Homo sapiens: one gene and its partners. The protein of the gene in region 2 interacts with the protein of the main gene of each other region in a pairwise test. Each region holds a gene or a part of one and is shown on either strand. Other genes may lie near its edges.

Evidence for each region.
Region 1: the proteins of ERGIC3 (region 2) and UBE2J1 interact in binary tests that used the Homo sapiens proteins (3 or more experiments, as listed by UniProt).
Region 3: the proteins of ERGIC3 (region 2) and NDUFB6 interact in binary tests that used the Homo sapiens proteins (3 or more experiments, as listed by UniProt).

Annotation. Positions count from the first base shown.
Region 1 is NC_000006.12:89,341,994-89,349,906, reverse strand, and holds part of UBE2J1 (ubiquitin-conjugating enzyme E2 J1), read left to right. Parts: intron 1-6,150; coding exon 6,151-6,224; intron 6,225-7,451; coding exon 7,452-7,583; intron 7,584-7,913. UniProt on the Homo sapiens protein: Catalyzes the covalent attachment of ubiquitin to other proteins. Functions in the selective degradation of misfolded membrane proteins from the endoplasmic reticulum (ERAD) and is essential for cells to recover from ER stress.
Region 2 is NC_000020.11:35,544,740-35,552,652, forward strand, and holds part of ERGIC3 (endoplasmic reticulum-Golgi intermediate compartment protein 3), read left to right. Parts: exon of another isoform or gene 1-43; intron 44-2,672; coding exon 2,673-2,766; intron 2,767-3,769; coding exon 3,770-3,935; intron 3,936-4,068; coding exon 4,069-4,126; intron 4,127-7,913. UniProt on the Homo sapiens protein: Possible role in transport between endoplasmic reticulum and Golgi. Positively regulates trafficking of the secretory proteins SERPINA1/alpha1-antitrypsin and HP/haptoglobin.
Region 3 is NC_000009.12:32,569,431-32,578,133, reverse strand, and holds the start of NDUFB6 (NADH dehydrogenase [ubiquinone] 1 beta subcomplex subunit 6), read left to right. Parts: upstream 1-4,974; 5' UTR 4,975-5,073; coding exon 5,074-5,253; intron 5,254-7,081; coding exon 7,082-7,174; intron 7,175-8,703.

The sequences.
Region 1 (7,913 bases), on a different chromosome or scaffold from region 2:
GAAGAAATGTGTATAAAGCACCTCCTTTGGCAGCTTCTTCATCAGGGGGCCATTGACATGTGCAGCAGGTGGTGGGAGTATAAGAGACTGGTGCAAAAGTACCCACTGCCTCCACCAGAAGTCTAAGAGTTACCTATCCATGCCATTGGTGTCAACTGCACCTTCCCACTAATCCACTCAAGGTTTCATGTCCAACTCAGGCCCTTCTCGTAAGCTATAGATACACAGAACTTATGGTGACTCAACATCTTCATTTCCCATAGAGTGAAAAAAATCTCTGTAAGTATAAAGACAAAACTCATCAGTTTTCTTCTCCTCCCCTAAACTTGCAGTTTACCCTAGTATTTCATATCTCAGGGATAGACAGCACTCAGGCACCTATGGGAGTCATTTTTTATTTCTTGGTCGCTTCCTTGCTCCATCCCTGCCCTGAAACACACAACTCAATACACACACAGAAACACATATATCTAATCAGTCACTGTTGTCACCAGATCAATCAAAACAAAAACTGATTACCCCCAAATTGAAAAATTTTCAGTAGCTTTCTGATAGCTGTCAATAAAGTTCAAAGTAAACTGCTTAGCTTGGCCTACAGGGCTGCTCATGATTGACCCTGCCCTTCCTCACCAGCCTCACTGTCCACCACTCTTATGCTCTTCCTCATTTTCTTTTTTTTTGAGGCAGGGTCTCCCAGCCTGGAGTGCAGTGGTGCCATCACAGCTCACTACAGCCTCAACCTCCTGGGCTGAAGTGATTCTTCCACCTCTGCCTCCCGAGTAGCAGGGACCACAGGTGTGTGCCACCACACCCAGCTAATTTGTGTATTTTTTGTAGAGACGAGGGTTTCACCATGTTGCCCAGGCTGGTCTCAAACGCCTGAGCTCAAGTGTTCCCTCCACCTTGGCTTCCCAAAGTGGTGAGATTACAGGTGAGAGCCACTGCACCAGGCCTGCGTTTTTACCTATCCATTTTGCCTGAATGACTCTCTAGCTGGAGTAGCTTTTCTCACTTAGGTGCTTTGGTTCCTGTTGGAACCTCTGCTTAGAATGCCTTCCTTTAAATCCATCTGAAATTCCTATAGTTCTTCAAGCTTTAAGGTTCAGCCTTGTCTAGCTCCCCTAGGCAGACTAAAGTAGTTCCTATATATACTTGTACATATATACTTGGTCAATATTACCACTTGGTTGTAATTATTTTCATGTCTTTCTCTACTGACTGTTACGGAAGACAAGAAGCAGGTCTTGGTCATTGTTTTATCTCCAACACTCAGACATTCTTTAAATGTTTGTTGAACTGATACATTTGCAGGGTCCTCCTGGGCAGAAACATCACTCTGTAGGCATTTGCTTAAGTACCTTCATTATGGGAGCAGGAAGAGGCAGTTAGGGAGCATGCCTTCCTTAATATACCTGTCTCCTGCATTTCACTCATGCTTTGGGAATTGATAATATCAAGATAATTGCTTTTGAAGAGGAATCCATATATGGGAAGCAGTGGCCTGTAGAAGATCCCTTTATTTTTAGCTGTATACAAACCCCAATGTGAGGCTAGTGAGCTAGCCAAGGTGTGTGAAGAATGCTAATGCCTAGGCCCACAGCACCTAGAGCATGGCTCCAGAGTGTCCATGTGGCCTCTATAAGAAAGAAGAACAAGAGCAGGCATCCAGGTGCCACCCCTTCCTTTCCTGGCACATCTTATCTCACCACAGTGAAAGGATTCCATGGAAAAACCTTTCCAAGAGATAGGAGAGGAGCTGGAATAAAAGTTTCCTCTCTAGCCATGTAGAAGCAAGAGATGGAGTATCAGGAGGGGCAGACTATGCTGTAGCCCGGTTGCCAGGCAGCACTGTGAACCATGACTGTTTCCTAACAGTGGTATTTCTCCTCAGGAGCCAGGGAGCCATATCATAAGGCCAGCGAAATCTGCTGAGGCATGGTTTTGAGTTAGGAAGAATCATTGAGAAGGCCTTATATACCAGTCCATTTTCAACCTTAATGACTCAGGGACTGGGCAGGAAGGAGGGGTGAAAAGGAAAGGAGAATTTTGTGGAGAAATTATTGACTCTTATTTGACAGATGTAAACATCAGATCAAGTGACTTGTTCAAGGACTTAGAGCTACAAAATGTCAGAGTCAGAATTTTAATGCAGCTCTAAATCGAGTCCCTGTTTCTTTTCACTGAAGCATTCATAATATATGTTATTTTTGCAAAAAAAATAGCTTATGGAAACAAGAGACTAATCTCACCTTTTGGCTACATGACCTTAGCTCTTACATGGTATGTGCCTGAGTGACTTATGAACTAATTAGCTATTTAGCTGTTGAACCAATGATTGTTCCTTTACAGGATTGGTACAGATACATTCTTATAACAATTCTGACCCTTTATACATCTCTCATAATATCCAGGTACAAGTTTTGAGTGTTTATTTTCTTCTCTCCTGTTGAACTGAACTGAGTAGGGAAGAGGCAGAGAAAATGCGATAAGGGTATAGAATGACATAAAATCTGACTTCAGCTTAATCATTATTGAGTTCAGCCAGTTGACGAGGAATGAAGGAAAAACAATCTTTTTGGCATCTCCAAACTAATTAACTTCATAACAGCTTCCATAATTGCATTTCTATCTAATAATATTAACTTAAAGGAATGATATGTTTATGTGGCTTTAAAGCAGGGTTTTCCATCTTTGTTCTATGGGTCCCTTCAGGAGTGAAATGGAAGGACAGGGAGTAGATAGTCCGCAGGCCCTTCCACTGGCCTCTGCAACCAAAGCGGCTCTGTGGTTTTTGTTTCACCTGTTGGGGTTCTCATTAAGCTTTCTTTGAATGAAGGATTTTGTTTTATTAAATAAGTTTAATTGTTTTATTAAGTAAGTTTAAAAACCATTGCCTTTAATCGGATTCTGAGAGCTATGTTGAGAGAAGATAGTAAAATTTAATTCAACTAATATTTGAGTACTTACCATGTGCTAAGCCCTGAGGAGACTGTACTGCTACAGCTACACTGTCATTACTATTGCTTAGCAGGAAAAACAGATATTAAACAAGTAATTACAAGTGAGATGAACTTCATAAGAGGAAAAATACAGTGTTATGATGGCATAGAGCAAGGAGACTCAACCTGGTCTCTAGGGCAGTGGTTTCTAAACCTAACCAGAGTAATTCAGAGAGCATTCCTAGTCTCTACCCCTCCCTAGGACGCCTCAGAGATTTTGATCTGCCCAGATTGAAATCTCCAAGCACTGTAGGGGGTGGGGGGCAGGGGGCAACCAGGGAAGGTGTCATAGAGACATTCCTGAGAAGTTACTTAAAGGTCTAGGGTAGCCAGACTAGACGGTGAGGCGGAGGATGGGGCCGGAGCAGCCTGGGCCCTGAGGAAAGCTGTATAGAAAGGCTGAGAGTGGAGGGGAGGTAAAGTGTGTTCAGGGAATTGACCAAAGCCCAGTCTCTAGACTTGGAGGGAGAGGGTGTCTCAGTATGTACATATTTCTAATATAGCATTTATCATTCTGTTTTGTATTGACTGCACCTCCCAGCCGTCAGTCTTTAGTGACCAAAGCCATATTTTGTTTACGCATGAAGCTGTAGCATCTAGTACCTAGTAGGAACTCAAGAAATAGTTGATGATCCAGTGAACAAAGTCTCTGCATATAGGGGCTTAGTTCAGAGTAAGAAATGGAAAAGAATATTAATAATTGTGAAGTAGGATAGTAACAACTTTTTTTTGGCCAGGCATGCTGATTCCCGCCTGTAATCTCAGCACTTTGGAAGGCTGAGGTAGGAGGATTGCCCGAGACCAGCCTGGGCAAGACAGGGGGACCCCAGCTCTACAAAAAATTTAAAAATTAGCCAGGCATGGTGGTGCATGCCTGTGGTCTCAGCTATTGGGGAGGCCAAGGTGGGAGGACTGCATGAGCTTGGGAGGTTGAGGCTTCAGTGAGTGAGCTGTGTTCGTACCACTGCCCTCCGGCCTGGAGGGCTTTTTTTTTTTTTTTTAGACGTAGTTTCGCTCTTGTTGCCCAGGCTGGAGTGCAACAGCACGATCTCAGCTCACTGCAGCCTCCACTTCCTGGGTTTAAGCGATTCTCCTGCCTCAGCCTCCCTAGTAGCTGGGATTATAGGCATGTGCCATCACACCAGGCTAATTTTGTATTTTTAGTAGAGATGGGGTTTCACTATGCTGGTCAGGCTGGTTTCAAACTCCTGACCTCAGGTGATCCACCTGCCTCGGCCTCCCAAAGTGCTGGGATTACAGGCCTAAGCCACCGTGCCTGGTTTTGTTTGTTTGTTTGTTTGTTTTATTGAGATAGTCTCTCTCTGAAGCCCAGGCTGGAGTGCAATGGCACGACCTCAGCTCACTGCAACCTCCACCTCCTGGGTGCAAGCGATTCTCCTGCCTCAGCCTCCCGAGTAGCTGGGATTACAGGCGTCCGCCACCATGCCTGGCTAATTTTTGTATTTTTAGTAGAGACAGGGTTTCACCATGTTGGCCAGGCTAGTCTCGAACTCTTGACCTCAGGTGATCCACTCGCCTCGGTCTCCCAAAGTGCTAGGATTACAGGCATGAGCCACCACGCCTGGCCTCAAATGCAATTTTATGCAAAAGTCTTGATACATACCAAACCATTGTGGTTATATACATGTAGGGGTTCCTTCTCAGTTAATCTCTCTCCCCATAACATTCCAACCTGTGCCTCTACACATTTTACTTTTATTATTACCTCTTCCTATTCATATCTACCTGGGGAGTTTCTACTGTTATTTCTTTCACATTCAGTACCTGACTCCTTTTCTCTTCCATTTGCTCTAAAGTTAGATGCCCAGCCTGTCCTCCCAGCATCTGGTGCATACCTCTCTTTTGAGCTACATCAGTGGTTGCAAACCCAGTTTTGAGAAGCCTTTTCCCTAACTCAGCCATCCCACTGCAGTATCCTGACATGTTTTAGCACCAAAAGCTTGAAATGAGAGGGGTTGGGATCCAGAGTGCATATCAAAGGATTGAATTTTGAGAGCCAATAGAAGACAGAGGGTGCAGATACAGATAGGATTGTAGATTGTGATAGGCATCTGAGCAGCTCCTGCTAGCAGTCATTCATCAGGGAGATAAAAAGCTGGGTGCCATTAACTGAAAGAGAGGAGAAATTAGACTAGGTGGGAAATAATCTTGGAGTGCTAGGTGGAAAGAGTAGGCTGGAAGGCCTACTAGAGAAATGTGGGGACATTAGGTGGCATTGTATCCCAGTAGAGGTTGTTGGTAATGACTTGTAATGGCATTACTGCACCATCCTCTCTGACTTTTTTTCCTCCTTTCAGTGATGCTCAGCTGTTTGGGTATAGACAGCAAATAAGATGGTTGGGTTGGGTCAGGCACAGTTGGATTTTATTAAGGGAGTGTACAAGAGGGACTCCTAAGAGCCAAGGGTGTGGATAAAGAGGAAAATGAATATAAGTATAGGAGGGGTGAAGAAAGTTGTGGGGTCAGTGGACTGGAGGTTTTAGTGAAGCTGAAGGATCATTTCAAGAAGGAATTTCATCGGGGCTTTGGAGAGTCAGTGAATTCAGGGGACAGTCCATTCATTTAATGCAAGATAGTGGATGGAAAGTCCCAAGAGTTGGAGGATATAGAGGTGTTTCCTGTTCACCGAGCATGAGATCCAGAGAATACATTTTTTGTTAATAAAGACATTTTAACAGGTAGAGCCAAATTGCCTGTGTTGGAATCCCATCTCTGTCATTTACTAGCTGTGTGACTATATAATCTCTCCGTGTCTCGGCTTCTTCATCTGGAAAATGGGGATAAAAATAATACCTATCTAGTAATGTTGTATTAAGGGTTAAATGAGTTATTAATGTCTGTAAAAGCACTTCAATAAATACCACCATATAGGAAGTATATATAAGTACTTATTAAATAAAAATAGTGTCTTCACTATATATTTAATATATAACTCTTTTAAAGTGTTAATGCCTAGCAACTGTTTCCTTCCTCTCCCCCTCTATTTATTCCCATAATCTTATAATTAAACCTTTGCCATATGCTCATTTGCACTAGTTCTCTACACATTTTTTCATTAGGCTCGTAAGACTGTGCTAATCATTCAGAAAAGTATATTTTAAATATCTCTATTTTATGAATTTTATTTTAGCTGTTAAACGTTTAATGAAAGAAGCGGCAGAATTGAAAGATCCAACAGATCATTACCATGCGCAGCCTTTAGAGGTTAGTTTCTATCTCCATGTTCTTCATATGGATTTTAATATTTAAAACAAATTTTTTAAAATTGCTTTTCATTGCTTTGAGTCATTACAGATGTGTGTGATGTAGTTTGACGTTTTATTCACCATATTTCATGAATATTTCATTAGCCATTCCAAATCACTTTAGAAGAAACGGATTTTGTGGTCTTTATAAAATGGGTCTCAGATGCTAAGTTGAGGTTAGATCTTTTTTTTTTTTTTTTTTTTTTTGAGGCGGAGTCTCACTGTGTTGCCCAGGCTGGAGTGCAGTGATGTGATCTCGGCTCACTGCAACCTCTACCTCCCAGGTTCAAGCAATTCTCCTGCCTCAGCCTCCTGAATAGCTGGGATTACAGGCCCCCACCACCACGCCCGGCTAATTTTTGTATTTTTAGTAGAGACAGGGTTTCACCATGTTGGTCAGGCTGGTCTCAAACTCCTGACCTCGTGATCCACCCGCCTTGGCCTCCCAAAGTGCTGGGATTACAGGCGTGAGCCACTGCACCCGGCCGAGGTTAGATCTTGAGTCTGAGGGAGGGGAGGTGGAAAGAACCCCAGATACTTTACAGTTTGGAAGCCTTTTGATGGGTCTCCGTAGCTACTCAAGGCTTTTTGTATAAACATCTCGGCCTCTCTCAGTCTTCTCATTTGTAAAAGGAGGGTATTTAAATATACCCAGGCAGGTTTTCATGGTAACAGTGGGAATAAAAATATCATAACTTAAGTGCAAGTATTTTGTAAACTGAAAAGTACATGGTAACTGTAAGATGACATTAAATACATTAGTATTACCATTTTATAAATAAGCTCTTAGGCATCTATAAGGGATAATTTTTAAAGATTTGTTAAAATAACCCAAACATAGTAATTTTTTGATTATATAATTATCATAATTTGCTATTCTTTCAAGGATTAATTTCCAATTTAAACCTGTAAGTTACTTATGAATATATAACAACACTCAGAAATTTTTAATGTGTTTATTATAAAATATTTTAGCTCAATGGAACATGAAAGCTAGATTAAATAGCTTTTACTTATAAATTTAATTTATCACTTATAGTCTCGAGACATCTCATGCATTAGAAACTATACTAGCAATAATATAAAGCATTTAATTTTTCTTGCTTGGTAATATTTCTAATATTCAGATAAAATGATCAAACTTTTCAATATTATTAATTCCTTGTGGATTATTGTTTTTGTTCAGGATAACCTTTTTGAATGGCACTTCACGGTTAGAGGGCCCCCAGACTCCGATTTTGATGGAGGAGTTTATCACGGGCGGATAGTACTGCCACCAGAGTATCCCATGAAACCACCAAGCATTATTCTCCTAACGGTAAGAATTTTGGATTTTTAGAGTGCTTGTGGCTTCACTCTTCCTGGTAGCTGCAAAATATAGTAAGCAAATCATTTTCATTAAGAAATAATAGAACAGTATAATTTTGCTTTTGGGGTCCAGGCCCTGGGACTACAATTTTTTTCCTCCAAAATAATTCCTAGGAAGCTGATGCATCTGAGAAGTAAAAATGATACAACTGAATGCATAAATGTCATATCATGGTTGTTAGGATTCAATGAATTAATATATGCCAAGTGCTGGGCATACACATCTGGCACTTCATAAGTACTCACTAAAGGGTAGCTAATGTTATTGTACCTTGTAATC
Region 2 (7,913 bases):
AGAGCCATGGCTGCTGCTCTCCAATGGCAGCTGTGGCAGAAGGGCTGGTGCCACGCGGGGATCTACTTTTTTTTTTTTTTTTTTTTTGAGTCACGCTCTGTCACCCAGGCTGGAGTGCAATGGTGCGATTTCAGCTCACTGCAACCTCTGCCTCCCGGCTTCAAGTGATTCACCTGCCTCAGCCTTCTGAGTAGCTGGGGTTACAGGCGCCTGCCCCCACACCCGGCTACTTTTTGTATTTTTGGTAGAGACAGGGTTTCACCATCGTGGCCAGGCTGGTCTCAAACTCCTGACCTCAGGTGATCCACCCGCCTTGGCCTCCCAAAGTGTTGGGATTACAGGCATGGGCCACCACGCCCAGCAGGGGATCTGCTTTTAAAGGGCTCACTCATAGGGCTGTTGGCAGGATGCCTCAGTGCCTCACCACATGGGCCTCTCAGTAGGGTTGCTTGTGTGTCCTTGTATCACGGCAACTGGCTTCCCCCACTTGGATCTTGCAAGTGAGCTGAGAGAACAAAGTAGAAACCATAACCTTTGGCCAGGCATGGTGGCTCACGCCTGTAGTCCCAGCACTTTTGGAGGCTGAGGCAGTTGGATCACCTGAAGTCAGGAGTTCAAGACCAGCCTGGCCAACATGGTAAAACCCCATCTCTACTAAAAAATACAAAAAAAAAAAAATTAGCCGGGTGTGGTGGTGGGCACCTGTAATCCTAGCTACTCAGGAGGCTGAGGCAGGAGAATCACTTGAACCAGAGAGGCAGAGGTTGCAGTGAGCCGAGATCACGCCACTGCACTCCAGCTTAGGCAACAAGAGTGAAACTCTGTCTCAACAACAACAACAAAAAAACGTGTAACCTTTTTTATGACCCAGCCTCAGAAGTTGTACACCATCATTTCTGCAATATACTAGTGCTTACACAGGTCAGCCTTACTCATTGTGGGAGAGGACTACATAAGGGTGTGAATACTAGGAAGTGGGGATCATTGAGGACATCTTGGAAACTAGCTTCCACAGAGTAAGGTCAGGATTTGCAGGAAAGAGGAATCTCAGGTTTGGGGTATGTTAAATTTGGGGTTCCTATTTTATACTCTGGTGATATTAAGAGGCAATTAGATGTACCAGTCTAGAATTTAGAGGAGTTATCAGCAGGTACAGGGTAGTTTAAACAACTGGACTAAGAAAACCTGGGGAGTCAATGTAGGTAGAGGATAGGTCTACGGCCTGTACCCTGGGTATCTCCAATATTTAAAAGTCAGGACAGGAAGGAAGATTGGGACGGATTAGCCATTGACGTAGAAGAACCAAGAGGTGTCCCAAAAGCCAAGTGGAGAGAGTTTCAAGAAGAGAGAGTGAGCAGTTGTATCAGAAGCTACTGATAGTCCAGTAAAATGAGGAGTGAGAATTGACCATTGAAATTAGCAACAAAGAGATTCCTGGAGACTTTGAAAGGAACAATTTTGATACTGTTGAGGATGAAAATCGGATCAAAGAGCAAAAAAGGAAGTGGAGACATTACCTATAGGTGACTTGGGAGTTTCACTGTAAGGGAGAGCTGAGAAATGGAGTGGGATCTGAAGGAGAAAGTGGTGAGATGGTGGGTTTGGTGGTGAGAGCAAGTGAAGTTCTGTTGCTTCTCTTTTCTTAGTGGAAATTGAAAGCAAGGACATTAGCTAAGTGAAGAAATAGGAGGGGGTTTTGGGAGCCTAAGGAGAGAGGAGAAGGTCTAAGTCACCTTAGAGAGTGGGAGAGTGAACTGATTAGAGAAATGAAGTGGAATTGCCAGGCAGTCCTAAAGGAGCTTCAGGAAAGAAGTAGGTACAGAGAGTTGAATGGAACCAGGGTGTGGGTTTTGCTGGATTTGTAAATGAAAGACGAGAGGAACAGGGAGTTGTGGTTATGTGCAAGAGAATAATTACAGTGGACCATGGGATTTCAGGAGGGAAGTGAGGACGTGATAGTGTCAGCAGTGTCAAAGAATTGGTGGATTTCGGGTACTAAATAGTGAACTTGGAAAATAAGGGTAAGTAGTTGAAGACTCAGACACTTGAAGTTGAATTTTGGAAGATTTGCAGTTATTGGCAGTGACAGGATCTAGGTATGAGTATGAAAATGGGTAGCTGAGGTGAGATGGCAAAATCAAAAGATTATCATGAGTCGGGAGGTCAGTATTCATTATTGAAATCACCAGTTATGATGGGGTGATTAGAGTGAGGCAAGGAGCCGGTGCAGAGGGAGAGGTGTGAGGAGAAGCACCATGGCAAGAGGTTAGTGGCATACACGTTGGAATTAGCTGAAATCTGTTTCCTCGGTTGCATTGGGCAAAGTCACTTCTCATCAGTGAGCCTCAACATCTTCTCAGTAAAACAGGGATAATTACCGCCACCCTCAAAGAGTCATTGTGGGGATGAAATGAGATGATGGTTGTGAAGTACAGTGATCTGTACACAGCTAATGTTCAGTATTTACTGTTGACTGTTTTCTTACTGTTTCTTTTATTAAAAGAATTGATATGTGTGTAGAAGTGCTTAATGCCTGACCCGTAGCATGTACTATATGAATATTAGTTATTATAACTTTTATTATCCCTAAGCAAAGGGCTTGTGCAGACTGGAGCCACCGATTTCACTGTGTCTGGCCCCAGCTGATGCCTCTGCTTCTCCCCTCCCCTTAGAGCTTGGGAAAGTCGAGGTGACGGTGTTTGACCCTGACTCCCTGGACCCTGATCGCTGTGAGAGCTGCTATGGTGCTGAGGCAGAAGATATCAAGTGAGCTGGCGGGGAGCGGGAGCAGGGTTCCCATCAGGCGCCATCTGTCAGTCAGCCTCAGCCTCAGTCAGACTGTGGCAGGTGGGGAGGTCAGACCAAGAATCTAGAGTGGGCGGGGTATGTGCCTCTGTCATTGATCCTGGTGCAAGCGACTGAGGCTTTGTAACCAGGCCCTATCTGGGAGCTGCAGACCTAGAGATGAAGCTGAAGTGGTCTCTGCTCTTCCACCTAGAGAAATGGTTCAGAGGTGGTCTCTGGAGTCCAGTTACCTGGGTTCTACCCGTTTCCTTGGGCCAAGCCATGTAACCTCTCTATGTGAAGAGGGATGATAATAACATCTTCTCGTAAGAGTCACATATGGATTAGCTGTATACTGTGTGTAAAGCACTGAGGTGGAAGGCCCAGCCCAGATTATTAGACCCTCAGTATCTGATAACTGCTGCTGTTTCCCAGACCCTGACTTCTGCAAGACTGATTCAGCAGGTCTGGAGTGGGGCCTGGGAATGTGTACTTAAATTTTTTTTTATTGTGGGAAAATATGTGACATAAAATTTACCATTTTAACTATTTTTAAGTGTGCAACTCAGTGGCATTAGGTATCTTCACAGTGTCATGCAGTCACCACTCTCTGTCCTAAAACTTGTCATCGCCTCAAACAGAATGGGAATATGTATTTTTCACAGTCCTAGTCTGGGCACAATGGCTTACACCTGTAATCCGTAGCACTTTGGGAGGCCGAGGTAGGTGAATCACTTGAGCTCAGGAGTTTGAGACCAGCCTGGGCAACATAGCAAGACCCTATCTCTAAAAAAATTTTAAAAATTAAAAAAAGAAAACAGTCCTTCTGCCACTGAGGAAACACATTTGGAGAATGTTTGGTGGTCAGGGATGAGGCTAGCAGAGCCTTCATTAGCAGGCAGAGCTGCTCGGGCTCTATTTCCCCAGATGCCAGCACTGGACTTATGCCTCTTTAACACTCTCACCGTCACTCCCTGCCCTACAGGTGCTGTAACACCTGTGAAGATGTGCGGGAGGCATATCGCCGTAGAGGCTGGGCCTTCAAGAACCCAGATACTATTGAGCAGTGCCGGCGAGAGGGCTTCAGCCAGAAGATGCAGGAGCAGAAGAATGAAGGCTGCCAGGTGTATGGCTTCTTGGAAGTCAATAAGGTATCAGGAGGGATCAAGACAAGATAGGGCCAGCTGGGCTGGGCAAGCTCCACTGGGAACCGAGGGCCCAGTCAGGCCCTGAGTAGGCAAAAGGAGGACACAGCCAGTGAATGAGAGAGAATGTTCCTTACAGGTGGCCGGAAACTTCCACTTTGCCCCTGGGAAGAGCTTCCAGCAGTCCCATGTGCACGGTGAGTGATCTGCACTAGCTGGGGAGATTTAGATGCTGGCCACCTTCTTGGTGAGCTTGAGTGGTCCTCTTCTGCCTGCTGCTCATTTGTCTTGGGCAACCATTTGGCCAGAGCAGGCCTTCATCTCAGGGCAGCAGTTTGGCACAGTGGCTAAGAGCACAGGCCGAGGAGCCAGACTGCCTGCATTCAGATACCAGTTTCAGACCTTACTGGCTGTGTGACTTTGAGAAGGTTTCTTAATCTTTTTGACTCCTGTTTTCTACTTTATAAAATGTTGTGAGGGCACTTATCTCACAGGGTGTGTGTGCAGGTTAAAGATGATAGCACGGAGCCTGGCTTGTGGTAGGTACTTGTTGAAATGGTAGCCCCCCGTGTCCGATGATGACCTGTGCATGAGGCTTTGGGAGAAGCAGAGCTAGGTTGGAGCACAGGTTCTGCCACACCTGGGCTATGTCATATTTGGGCCCTATTTAGTTGCTTCTTCTGTAAAATGGGGATGATGATAATAGTACCCACTCACAGGGCTGTTGGGGTGAACAAATGAGATTTATTCTCATTCATTTGTTCATTCATGCATTCACAAAATATTTAGTAATCACCTACTAGTCTAGTTGCTAAGGGTACAGTAGTGAACAATCTGTGCCCTCAGAACATTCTAGTAAAGAAATAGACAATAAGTATATAAAATATAAATAGTCCCCAATTAACAATGGTTCAGCTTGCAATTTTTAACTTCATGATGGGTATTACATGCATTTTTCACTTAACGATATTTTCTTTTTCTTTTTTGAGACAGAGTCTCACTCTGTCGCCCAGGCTGGAGTGCAGTGGCATGATCTTGACTCACTGCAACCTCCACCTCCTGGATTCAAGTGATTCTCCTACCTCAGCCTCTTGAGTAGCTGGGTGTACAGGTGCGTGCCACCACGCCCAGCTAAGTTTTGTATTTTTAGTAGAGATGGGGTTTCATTATGTTGGCCAGGCTGGTCTTGAACTCCTGACCTCAAGTGATCTGCCCGCCTCGGCCTCCCAAAGTGCTAGGATTACAGGCATGAGCCACCGCACCTGGCCGACTTACAATATTTTCAACTTGCAATGGGTTTATTGGGACGTAACCCCAGTGTAGGTCAGGGAGCATCTGTATATGGTATATCAGATGCTGTTAAGTCATATGGACCAAAACAAGGCAGGATAAAGATGGTAATGGGGAGGGGCTAGGGTAGGGCAGTGAGGGTCCTATTTTAAATATGGAGGTCAGGGAAAAACTCTTTGATGAGGTAATATTTTAGCAAAGACCTGAAGACAGTGAGGGAGCCAGCCATGTGGATGTCTGGGGAGGAAGTGTTACAAGCAGAGAGAACAGCAAATGCAAATTCCTAAGGCTAGAATGTGCTTGGCAAGTTCAAGATACAGTAAGAAGGTTAGGGTGGCTGGAGCAGAGGAGCATGCTTAGAAATGAAGTGAGAGAGGCCGGGTGCAGTAGCTCATACCTGTAATCCCAGCACTTTGGGAGGCCGAGGCGGGTGGATCACCTGAGGTCAGGAGTTCAAGACCAGCCTGGCCAACATGGTGAAACCCTGTCTCTACCAAAAATACAAAAATTAGCTGGGTGTGGTGGCACACGCCTGTAATCCCAGCTACTCGGGAGGCTGAGGCACGAGAATCTCTTGAACCTGGGAGGTGGAGGTTGCAGTGAGCTGAAATTGCGCCATTGTACTCCAGCCTGGGTAACAGAGTGAGACTCCATTTCAAAAAATAATAATAAATAAAGAGAGGTCACAGGGCCATATCATGCAGGGCTTGCAGGGGCATTGTAGGGACTCGGGCCGTTACTCTGCATGAGATGAGAAGCCATTGTAGGGCCCTGAAGAAGGTGAGGCATGATCTGACTTAAAAGCTCTCCAGCTGCTCTGTGGACAAGACTGGGCAGGGGAAAGGACAGAATCAGAGAGGCCCATTAGGAGGCAGTTGCAGTGATCAATCCAGGCAAAAGATGGTGGGGCACGGCCCAGAGTGGCAGTGGAAGTGGTGGGAAGTGACTGGCTTCTGGATGTATTTTGAAGGTAGAGCTGAGAAGAGTTCCTGATGGGCATGAGGGATAAAGGAAAAAGGAGTCAAGGATGCCTCCAAAGTTTTGTACCTGAGTAGTAAGAAGGATGGAGTTGCCTGTAATCCTAGCACTTTGGGAGGCCAAGGCAGGTGGATTGCCTGAGCTGAGGAGTTTGAGACCAGCCTGGGCAACATGATGAAACCTTGTCTCTACTAAAAAATGCAAAAAATCAGCCGGGCGTAGCGGCGTGCGCCTGTAGTCCCAGCTACTCGGGAGGCTGAGGTAGGAGAATTGCTTGAACCCAGGAGGCGGAGGTTGCAGGGAGCCGAGATTGTGCCATTTCACTCCAGCCTGAGCGACAGAGTGAGATTCCATCTCCATTAAAAAAAAAAAAAAGGATAGAGTTGCCATTTAGCAAGATGAGGGAGACTCAGGGCAGGTTTAGATGTTCGGAAATGGGATCGTACAGCTGGTATTCGGCTTTTGACGTGTTCAGACCAATAGCATCTGGGTGTCCTTCTAGACACCCAAGGTGTCAAGTAAGTTTTCCATTCAAGCCTGGAGTTCAGGGAGAGGACTTGCCTGGAGATGCAGATGTTGGCATCATCAGCATGTGTATAGAGCTGTGGGACTGGATGAAATCACCCTGGAGGTGAGGGCAGATGGAGAAGAAGGGAAGCTCAAAGGGCTGGGTGCCAGGCCTCCCACATTAGAGGCCAAGGGTGTCAGGGGGAATTGGTAGGGGAGACTGGAGGAGGAGTGTAAGCTGGGAATGTGGCATCCTGCCAGCCACGGACGGGTGTTTCAAATACCACATCAGATGCTTCTGGATGTCAAGCGGGAATTGACCATGGCATGTACATGCAACAGTCACTTATAGCCTTGACTGAGTCATTTAAGGGTGTGACAGGACCACCCTAGAGTGGGTTCGGGAGGGAATGGGGGAGGAGTTGGAGCCAGTATTGACAGCTCTATAGTGGAAATTGCCTAGGGGAGGAGAGAGCATGAGCTGAAGCTAGAGGGAAATGTGGAGTCGAGGGAGGCTTTTCTAAGGAGGGTGATGTAGCAGAATGTTAATATGCTGTTGGAAATTATCGACTAAAGAGCATAAGTGATGCTCCAGAGACGAGACAGTGACCGGAGTGAAGTCCTGGAGAAGGAGAAAGAAGACAGAATCTAGTGCCTTACATATGTGGAAAGTCCAAACTTAGCACCAGGAGGAAGGGCAGGCTCTGTAGGTACAGGTAGGGTGGTAGCTGGTGTGGCAGAAGTACATGGAGAGTCTCTTCTGAGTCTTCCCATCTTCTCCGTGTTGTAGGAAGGAAGGTCCTCAGTTGAGAATGAGGAGAGAGGGAAGGAGGTGTTGGAGATTTGAAAGAAGAAAAGATGTGACTGGTCACTTGGGGGTGGAAGAGTGCGTGGACTGGGGAGATTGAGTAGGATTGATGCAGCCCTAGGGCCTCCCTGGAGTCCGCGGCTGTGAATGCAAAGAGAGCGGTCAGCATGGTTGTCTGTGTGGGAATGGACTCAGTCAACAGAACATTGCAATTGCATGGGGTTTGGTGTTGCCAGGTGCCTGCAAAGGTGAGGGAGTCAAATATGTAAAGAACTCATCTTGATTCTGGACCACAGCATATGAGCTAGGAAAGGAGGAAAGACAGGATGTGGAGAAGCCAGTGAGGGGGCAGGAGGAAAAAGGGACTACAAGTCCTGAGTGTAGTGTCAACAAGTTATTGG
Region 3 (8,703 bases), on a different chromosome or scaffold from region 2:
AGTTATTATACTTGTCGATGCTCAAATTTTCCCATCTTTAACCAGTGGGAACCTATTTAAGTTGGCTCCCAAATCCTTTTGACATAACCCTACTGGCCTTTAAAACTTCCCTGCTTTCCGACATGATAAGATGTTCCAGGCTTTCTTTACGTTTCCTAATCCGACCCAGGCCTGGGGTTAGCCATTTTTCCAAGGCAGAGGTTCTCAAAGTTTGGCCCAGGTCCTCTTAAGAGTCCCTGTGATCCTTTTATGGGGTCCGTGATGTCAAGATTATTTTCATAGTAAGAGTTATCACTCAGTATCCATGTCCCCAAGGATACTGAGGGTCCCAGGACCCCTCTCAGATACCCAAATCCACAGATGCTCATCTCCCTTGATAAAAGAAAAACTGTAGACAAATTAAATTTAACAAAGTTTAATTGATCAAGGAAAAAGCAATTCGCAAATTGGGCCCTCAGAATCACAGCAAATTCAGAGAGTTATTTCTGCACAGTTGGAGAGATTTTAAGAATAGAAAAAGGAAACTGAAATACAAAAAAAAAAAAAAACACAACAGAAGTGAGGTACAGAAACAGCCAGATTGGTTACAGCTTGGCGTTTGCCTTATTTAGACCTGGTTTGGACAGTTGGCCACCTGTGAGTGGCTGAAGTATGGCTGCAGTGATTGACTGAGATGCAGCTATTGTTACAGAAGTATGTCTCCATTAGATTTTTCAGTTTGCTTATCTATTAAGTTAGGTTGCAATTCCTAAGTAAGAACTCCAGTATGCAAGTATGGAGACTTTCTCGGGCCAGATTTTAGTTTGGTTTAGCACCCTCATATAAAATGGGGTAGTATTTGCATATAACCTATGCACATCCTCACATATACTTTAAATCATCTCTAGGTTATGTAACTGAGTATCCCCATTTTTCTAAGAAAAAGAGAATGAGTTATTTTTTTTATTAGTTTTCTTCTTTTCTCTTCTGTTTCTTGCTATTCTCCACTTCCTACTAGCCCGTTTGAAATGCAATTATAACCTTTACCTCCCCTTCACCAGACACTCCCTACAGGGCAAGTTCATCTAACTTTGTACTCAGAAGCTCCAGAACAAACTCTCACCCACCAGGAGATTGCCTCAAGAGGTAACAGTCGATTTACAACCCAAAGTATACATGATGAGAAACTCTTTCCCACCGGGAAAGTTTTTGGCCATTTTAATAACTTATTTCTGCCCATGAAGATGCCAACTTGACTGCCTAGTAGATAAGGTGCCAAGCTAGCATGTGGACTTCCTACCCACTTGCTGTCTCCCCTGCCTTTCGAAAGTACCCACTTTCTGCTCCAAAAGTGGAGCAGTACCTTTGAGGCTGGAAGCCCATACTTCTTCCCCTAAGCTAGCTTTGGAATACAAAGTCACTTTCTTTATACCAGACCTCGCTCTTGTTAACTGGACTCTGCAAGTGTTGAGTGACTAAACCTGTGTTTCAGTTACAATTACTTATAATACCTAATACAATGTCAATACTCTGTCAATAGTTGTTAGGCTGTATTGTTTAAAATTCATATTACTTTTTATTGTTTTTTTTCCTGAATAGTTTCTATCTGTGGTTGGCTGAATATGTAATTGTGGAACCCACAGATACAGATGACTGACTGTTTGCCCTTTTTATTTTACCCTTATAAAGTCTCATTCTCTCACAAATATACATGGGGATTTTCAGAGGCTATACGATGTGTTACATTATGATTGAATGCAGAAGCAGTTATAACAATTCTGCTGTCATTTATGAAGCAAGACATTAAAGACATTTACAAAAATGTAAAACAATGGCACTCTTCTCACTAATTTTTTAATGAGTACATTGTTACTTTAAAATGTTTAATTTCTAATGCAGTAAACATCAATAGATTAACCCACATAAACAAAAGCTCTTTGGGATCTCCAACAATTTTTAAGAATTTGAAGAAGTCTTGGAAGCAAAACTTTTGAGAACTGCTGCTTCAAGCAGTCCTAGTTCCTTTCAGTGGAAAATGTACATGAGAGATCACAACCTAAGAACAAAAGATGCTCATGATTATTGGTTTGCCAATTTCTTTTAGGCCATTATCAACAGGTAGAGCTAAGACAAAATTATATACATTTTTAAAGATAAAATACAATATGAGTTCATACTGATTCTTCCTGTTCACAATTTGACTATAGGATTTTTACTTAAACACATACAATTTATATACATGTCTCCCCATACCAAAAAAGATCAGTTTTTACAACACTCACGTAAACAGTTATTTTCAGTGTCAGATTAACAATACCATGATCAACACCACTATCCTCAATATGATTATTTAAAACAGTTTAAGATTTTTTTTTTTTTTTTTTGAGACGGAGCCTCTCTCTGTCACCCAGGCTGGAGTGCAGTGGCGCGATCTCGGCTCACTGCAAGCTCCGCCTCCCAGGTTCATGCCATTCTCCTGCCTCAGCCTCCCGAGTAGCTAGGACTACAGGCGCCTGCCACCACACCTGGCTAATTTTTGTATTTTTAGTAGAGACGGGGTTTCACTGTGTTAGCTAGGAAGGTCTCGATCTCCTGACCTTGTGATCCACCCGCCTTGGCCTCCCAAAGTGCTGGGATTACAGGCGTGAGCCACCACGCCTGGCCAAGATTTTTTTTAAGTTGTTTTTTTTTTGTTTGTTTTTGCGGGTTGTCTCTCAGTGGATTTACAATAATTCAATGGTTTAAAGTTATAGTTGATCCTTGAAAAAAACAGGTTGAACTTCGAGGGTCCATCATACGTGGATTTTCTTCTGCCTCTGGCACCCCAAGACAGCAAGACCAACCCCTCTCTTTGCCTCCTTATGATTTTCTTAATAACAGTTTATTTTCTCTGGCTTACTTTATTGTAATAATATAGCATATAATACATATACAAAATGTGTGTTAATTGACTGTATGTTATCAGTAAAACTTCTGGTCAAGAGTAGGCTATTAAGTTTTTGGAGAGTCCAAAGTTATATGTGGATGTTTGATTGTGCCAAGTGGAGGGGATTGGCACTACTAACCCTAGCGTTGTTACAAGGGCTATTGTATTTAGAATGATGTGTACCTTTGAGATTATGCCACCAAGTGGACCAATTAAGAGCTACTGGTTTTTACTTGATTTTTATGGACTGCTTTTTGTAAATTTAATTTTGTTTTGTAATGATATTGTTAAAATTAAAACTTTAGAAAAATTAAATTTAGCAGAAATTAATTGAGCAATGACCAATTTGAGAATCAGGCAGCCCTCAGAACCAGAGGAGGTTCAGAAAGTATCGTTCCACAAAGAGGCCAGGCAGCACGCATAGAAAAAAAACAGAAATGAGATACAGAAACAGCTTGATTGGCTACAGGTTGGCCTTTGCCTTATTTGAACATGGGCTGATCAGTTGACCACCTGTGATGATTGGCTGAGACTCAGTTATTTGTTACAGAAGTATATTCCTAAGTTAGGCTGTGAGTTAAATTGCATACTAAGTTGGGTTGCAGTTCATTATATAAGGACTCAAAATACGGAGACATCTTTAAGCTAAATTTAATTTCACAATATGAAATATTTACTTGGTTCTAAAGTCAAATTTATGAAGTAAGATGTTTCCAGAGATGTCTAGATTCTATCCCTGTCTCCTCTATCCTATTTATTTCCTCCACCATAGGTAGCATCTTTAAAAACCTCAATTGTTTTCATTCCCATTATTTTGAAAATTTAAGAAAATATGTATATATATTGAAATTACCACCATCTTTCTCTTTTTGGGTAAAAGCATACTGTACAAATTCCTATCCATTTTTTTTCCACTTTGTAATGTATTCTGGAGATCACACCACAGATGTATATAGAGTTCTTCCTTATTACTTTTGACGATTGTATTAGCATTTCATTGCTTTGTTGTGTGAAAGTTTTTGGGAAGCCACTGTTTTGGACTAGCTTCACGCACTAGGCCCCAGCAGACCAGACCAAACCAGAATGGAGTCGTTTGTGCTAAGTACCACACAATCAAACTGAACTTTGAAATGGGCCAGTTTCCCAAAAAATAGGAAATTCCCTTAAGTCTGAGTCAGTGAAACAAGGAAGTTTCTTCTGCTTTAACCCTAAAAGTAACTTTGAAACGATGAGTCCACTTTTTGTTCGGTTTCTGCTTTCTTCAGCCCCTATTTGCCAATAAAACCAACCGCCTCTGCTCAGCTGATCAGAACACTCATTCTACTTTATAGAATGAGGTGTTTTTTGATTCTAGAATCACGAATAAGAGTCAATTAAGATTTTTAAACTAATTCGTTGTAATGCTGTCTTTTGACTGTTGTACTACAATTTATTCAAGCAGTCCTTTATTTAGGAATTTGGGGGTAATTTCCAATATTTTGGTATTATGAATCGTGCTGAATAGTCGTGCATGCTCTTTCATATTTTCACCACACGTATTTTTGGGTGAAAGCATGAATTCATCTATGCAATTTTGCTAGATATTAAGCTACTCTTTTCACTATTCCTGTACAGATGGAGGGACAGATGAGACAGCTGCCCAGGGCACTTCAGCAGTTACTGGCATAGCTGGGATTTGAACTGGGATGTAACTATTTTCATACACTCTCTAGGTCATTCCAAGGTGGGAGAGGCAAGCAAATAATTTTGAATCTGGCCAGCATATTCACTGAAACATTTATGCTTATCCTTCCTCCTCCCAGCATACAAGTTCTTCCTTAGCAAAACCTCCAGTCCTCTAATTTAGCATACTTTCGTCTAATCTGTCACTTTCCTCAGGCCCCACAACTACGAGTACTCCTTGTCCCCACCCGGTCCTAATTTGGTCGGGTATAGCGGAGGTGGGCGTAGAGAGAACTGGAGGTGGAGACCTTTGTGCATGCCCACACACTGCTTTCCTCGCGAGGAATCTGGGGCCCTTGCAGAGGCGGAACCAGGATGTGACGTAATAACCGCGCGCGGCGCTCGGCGTTCCCGCAAGGTCGCTTTGCAGAGCGGGAGCGCGCTTAAGTAACTAGTCCGTAGTTCGAGGGTGCGCCGTGTCCTTTTGCGTTGGTACCAGCGGCGACATGACGGGGTACACTCCGGATGAGAAACTGCGGCTGCAGCAGCTGCGAGAGCTGAGAAGGCGATGGCTGAAGGACCAGGAGCTGAGCCCTCGGGAGCCGGTGCTGCCCCCACAGAAGATGGGGCCTATGGAGAAATTCTGGAATAAATTTTTGGAGAATAAATCCCCTTGGAGGAAAATGGTGAGTGACAGACCTCTCCGGTCCCCCCCAACACATCCCACTGCTGCCGGCAGCCTGAACACTGAACGTCCGCTCCCTGCAGCCACACCAAGGACTGATAACGCTCAGTGCTCTGGGACACTGGCCAGTCCCGAGAGTCCTCCTGGAGTCTCGGGAGGCAGGAGTCCAGGAATATGTATGGCTTTGAGAGAATCATGCCTTTTACTGTCAAGTACAGTGGACGGGGGCGAATTTTAATACTTAGGTTTTCCAGGACGCTGCACGTTTGGTTCTCTTTTGACTGTAGAAATCTTCCCTCAGAATAATAACCAAGGACTCGCTAGAATTAAAATTCTGTGATTTAAGTATTTGAGGACACTTGTCTGACTTTTAAGTGTGAGGTTCTAGAGACCAAGTAACACAGTATCCAACCACCAGAGGGCACAGCCAGCCCCTAGCTGATAGTACAGCCCCATGTGATCCCCGTAAAAGACAGGGTCCTGTTGGTATGCCTTGTGAGTCACATTCAAGAGCTACCTTTCTAAACTACCGTTCTGTACTTTTAACACAGTGTTTCATTAAAAAAATCGCATTTTGGGCTTTGAAGAAAATCACTCATTCAAGAACTTTATTTTCAAGGCCTCTGGGTATTTTCTTGAGGACTGTTATGGATGATAAACATCTCAGAATTGCTTTCAGTTACCTGCAACACTTACTGATGACAGGATAATAGTAGTAACAATACTACGTAACACACGGGTGCTTGCTGTGTGCTTGGCACTCTACTGGGGGTTTTACATGTGTTACTTCATTTCTTTATTCCTGTAAGGTAGATATTCCTAATCCTCATTTTAAATGTGAAGAAACTGAGGCCTACAAAGCTTCAGTGATTTGCTGGTGGTCAGGGAGCTAGGAATTGAATATGAGTTCATATTGTAATCAACATGTATCTGATTCTTACTGTGCTACAAAGTCTAGTGCAATAGAATTGTTGAAAATTTTTCTGAGAAAGTGATATTGGATACTTATTTATGGTGGTAAAATTCAACTCTTCTCCCACCCTTTGTATCCCTGACATTATCGGAATATTGGCAGTCACTGATTTAAAGTTGACATCCCATCCATCAGCAAGTGATATAAGGAAGTAAATAAATAATAATGTGTCGAAGTTCACCTTACCTTACTTTAATTTATTCTTTTATAATCATATCTGTTATAATTCTTAGATTCTGGATTGTCCCTTCCTTGAATGGATAGGTGTTTTTTAATCAAGTTGGAAGACATGGGAAAGTTCCATTTTTAGTTCTTTTTTAAAATAGTGTTGCAGAGGGCATTTTGGAGTGAGTTTGGGACACCCCATCTTAGTATGTAAAACGTCCTTTTTCCAGCATTGGCGTTGTCAAGGTTGTCTGCCTTATACCTAAAATGATGTGAGTGTCATTGATCAATAAATAAGGGAGATGACTATACCTGAAAAATTCTGTAGGTTTGATTACTCTGGTTAAATACATTAAAATTATTCTTTCATTATTTTGCTATATTTTATCTTTAACAAACTTATAATAAGGATATTTTTGGAAGTCTTTAAAAAATCTATAAATGCCTTGTTATAGTCTTGCAAAATACTGCTTAAGCATTTTGGTCTGGACTTTGTAGGTATCTTCTAGCAGACTCTGCATTTACTAAGAATATTTGAGTAGATGAGGTTACCTACAGACTATAAGAAAATATGTGCCATTTAGAGTTTTGTAAAATAGTCATGGCATTGTTACATCATTGATGCCTTTTGTTCTGCCATAAATATAAAAAATGGGATATGTTTATTTTGTGTATGTGTTTTTCCCCCCAGGTCCATGGGGTATACAAAAAGAGTATCTTTGTTTTCACTCATGTACTTGTACCTGTCTGGATTATTCATTATTACATGAAGTATCATGTTTCTGTAAGTATGTCCTTTTCAGAATTCATTTTTAATATTGTCCAAAATTACTTTCTTTGTGGCTATCTTACCCTACTTAGTGGAAATAATCTGCCACTTATAAACAGATTTTGAAGTACTTTGAATTCTCTTAGGTAAAAGGTTTAATGAAAGTTACATAATTGGGTATAGTTTTTAAAAAATATTGTCACTAGTTTACAACTTGAAATGGATTTCCTCATAGAAATTAGTATTTAAGTGATAAGAATGTAGTGACCTAATAATACTAGGGTAAATTTGGAGTCATGAATAGGAAGGGAGAAAACAATTCTGCTCCTTTTTAAAAACCTGTATCTCGTATAAGGTAAAAATTCAAAATAGACAAAGCATATCTTTGTCATCACCCAATTTCTGTTCCCTTCATTTTATCTGATTCTTCACAATTTTTATTTATTTAGAACTCAGGATGTCCAGATGCCTGCACTTTTTCACTGATACAGATCTTGCATGGGCTGATGGAACTGAGCCAGTTGTGGTATTTTAAAGGCTTGGTCTGGTGCAGGGTGTTGGATCCCAGGCAGAATGAGAAGGGCATGCATTTTGGGAAGTGGCGTGGCAGAGGGAGCAGTGGTGACTGCGTAGCCTGAAGTGTTGGAGCACAAAAGAGTGAGGAGGGCATTCGTATACCAAGAGAGGGGTGTTAGATCCTCAGTGGGTTGCAGGGGAGGAGGGTGAGCACATCTGTTTGGGGAGCAACAGTGGCAACAGCCTAGTATAGGATATTGGTACCTGAGCAGAGGGAGGAGGACATCTGGAAGAAGGATGGTATGAGGCAGTGAGGCAAGTGGTAACTCAGAGCAAGATGTCAGAACCTGAATGAGGTGAGGCAGGTATTAATGCTGGGATGTGGTTGTGGTGACAGGAGATGGGTTATATATAGGGAGATTGGCCAAATACAGGCATACCTCAGAGATATTTCAGAATTGGTTGTAGAACAATGCAGTTCCAAAAGTATTCTTTGGTTCTAGACCACCAAAACGAGTTACACAAATTTTTTGGCTTCCTAGTGCATATAAAAGTTATGTTTACACTGTGCTGTGGTATAAGTGTGTAATAGCAGTGTAAAAGAACGATGTATATGCTTTAATTTAAAAATACTTTATTGCTGGGCCATGTGTGGTGGCTCCCACCTGTAGCCCTAGCACTTTGAGAGGCCAAGGTAGGAAGATTGCTTGAGGCCAGAAGTTCGACCGGCTTGGGCAACATAGTGAGACTCCATGTTTCCAAAAAAAAAGAAAAAAAAATAGCTGGATGTAGTGGTCCACACCTATAATCCCAGCTACTCAAGAGGCTGAGATGGGAGGATTGCTTGAGCCCAGGATTTCGAGGCTGCAATAAACTGTGATTGTGCCACTGCACTCTGGCCTAGGTGCCAGGTTGATATGCTGCCTTAAAAAGAAAAAACAGGCCGGGCACGGTGGCTCATGCCTGTAATCCCAGCACTTTGGGAGGTTGAGGCGGGTGGATCACGAGGTCAAGAGATCGAGACCATC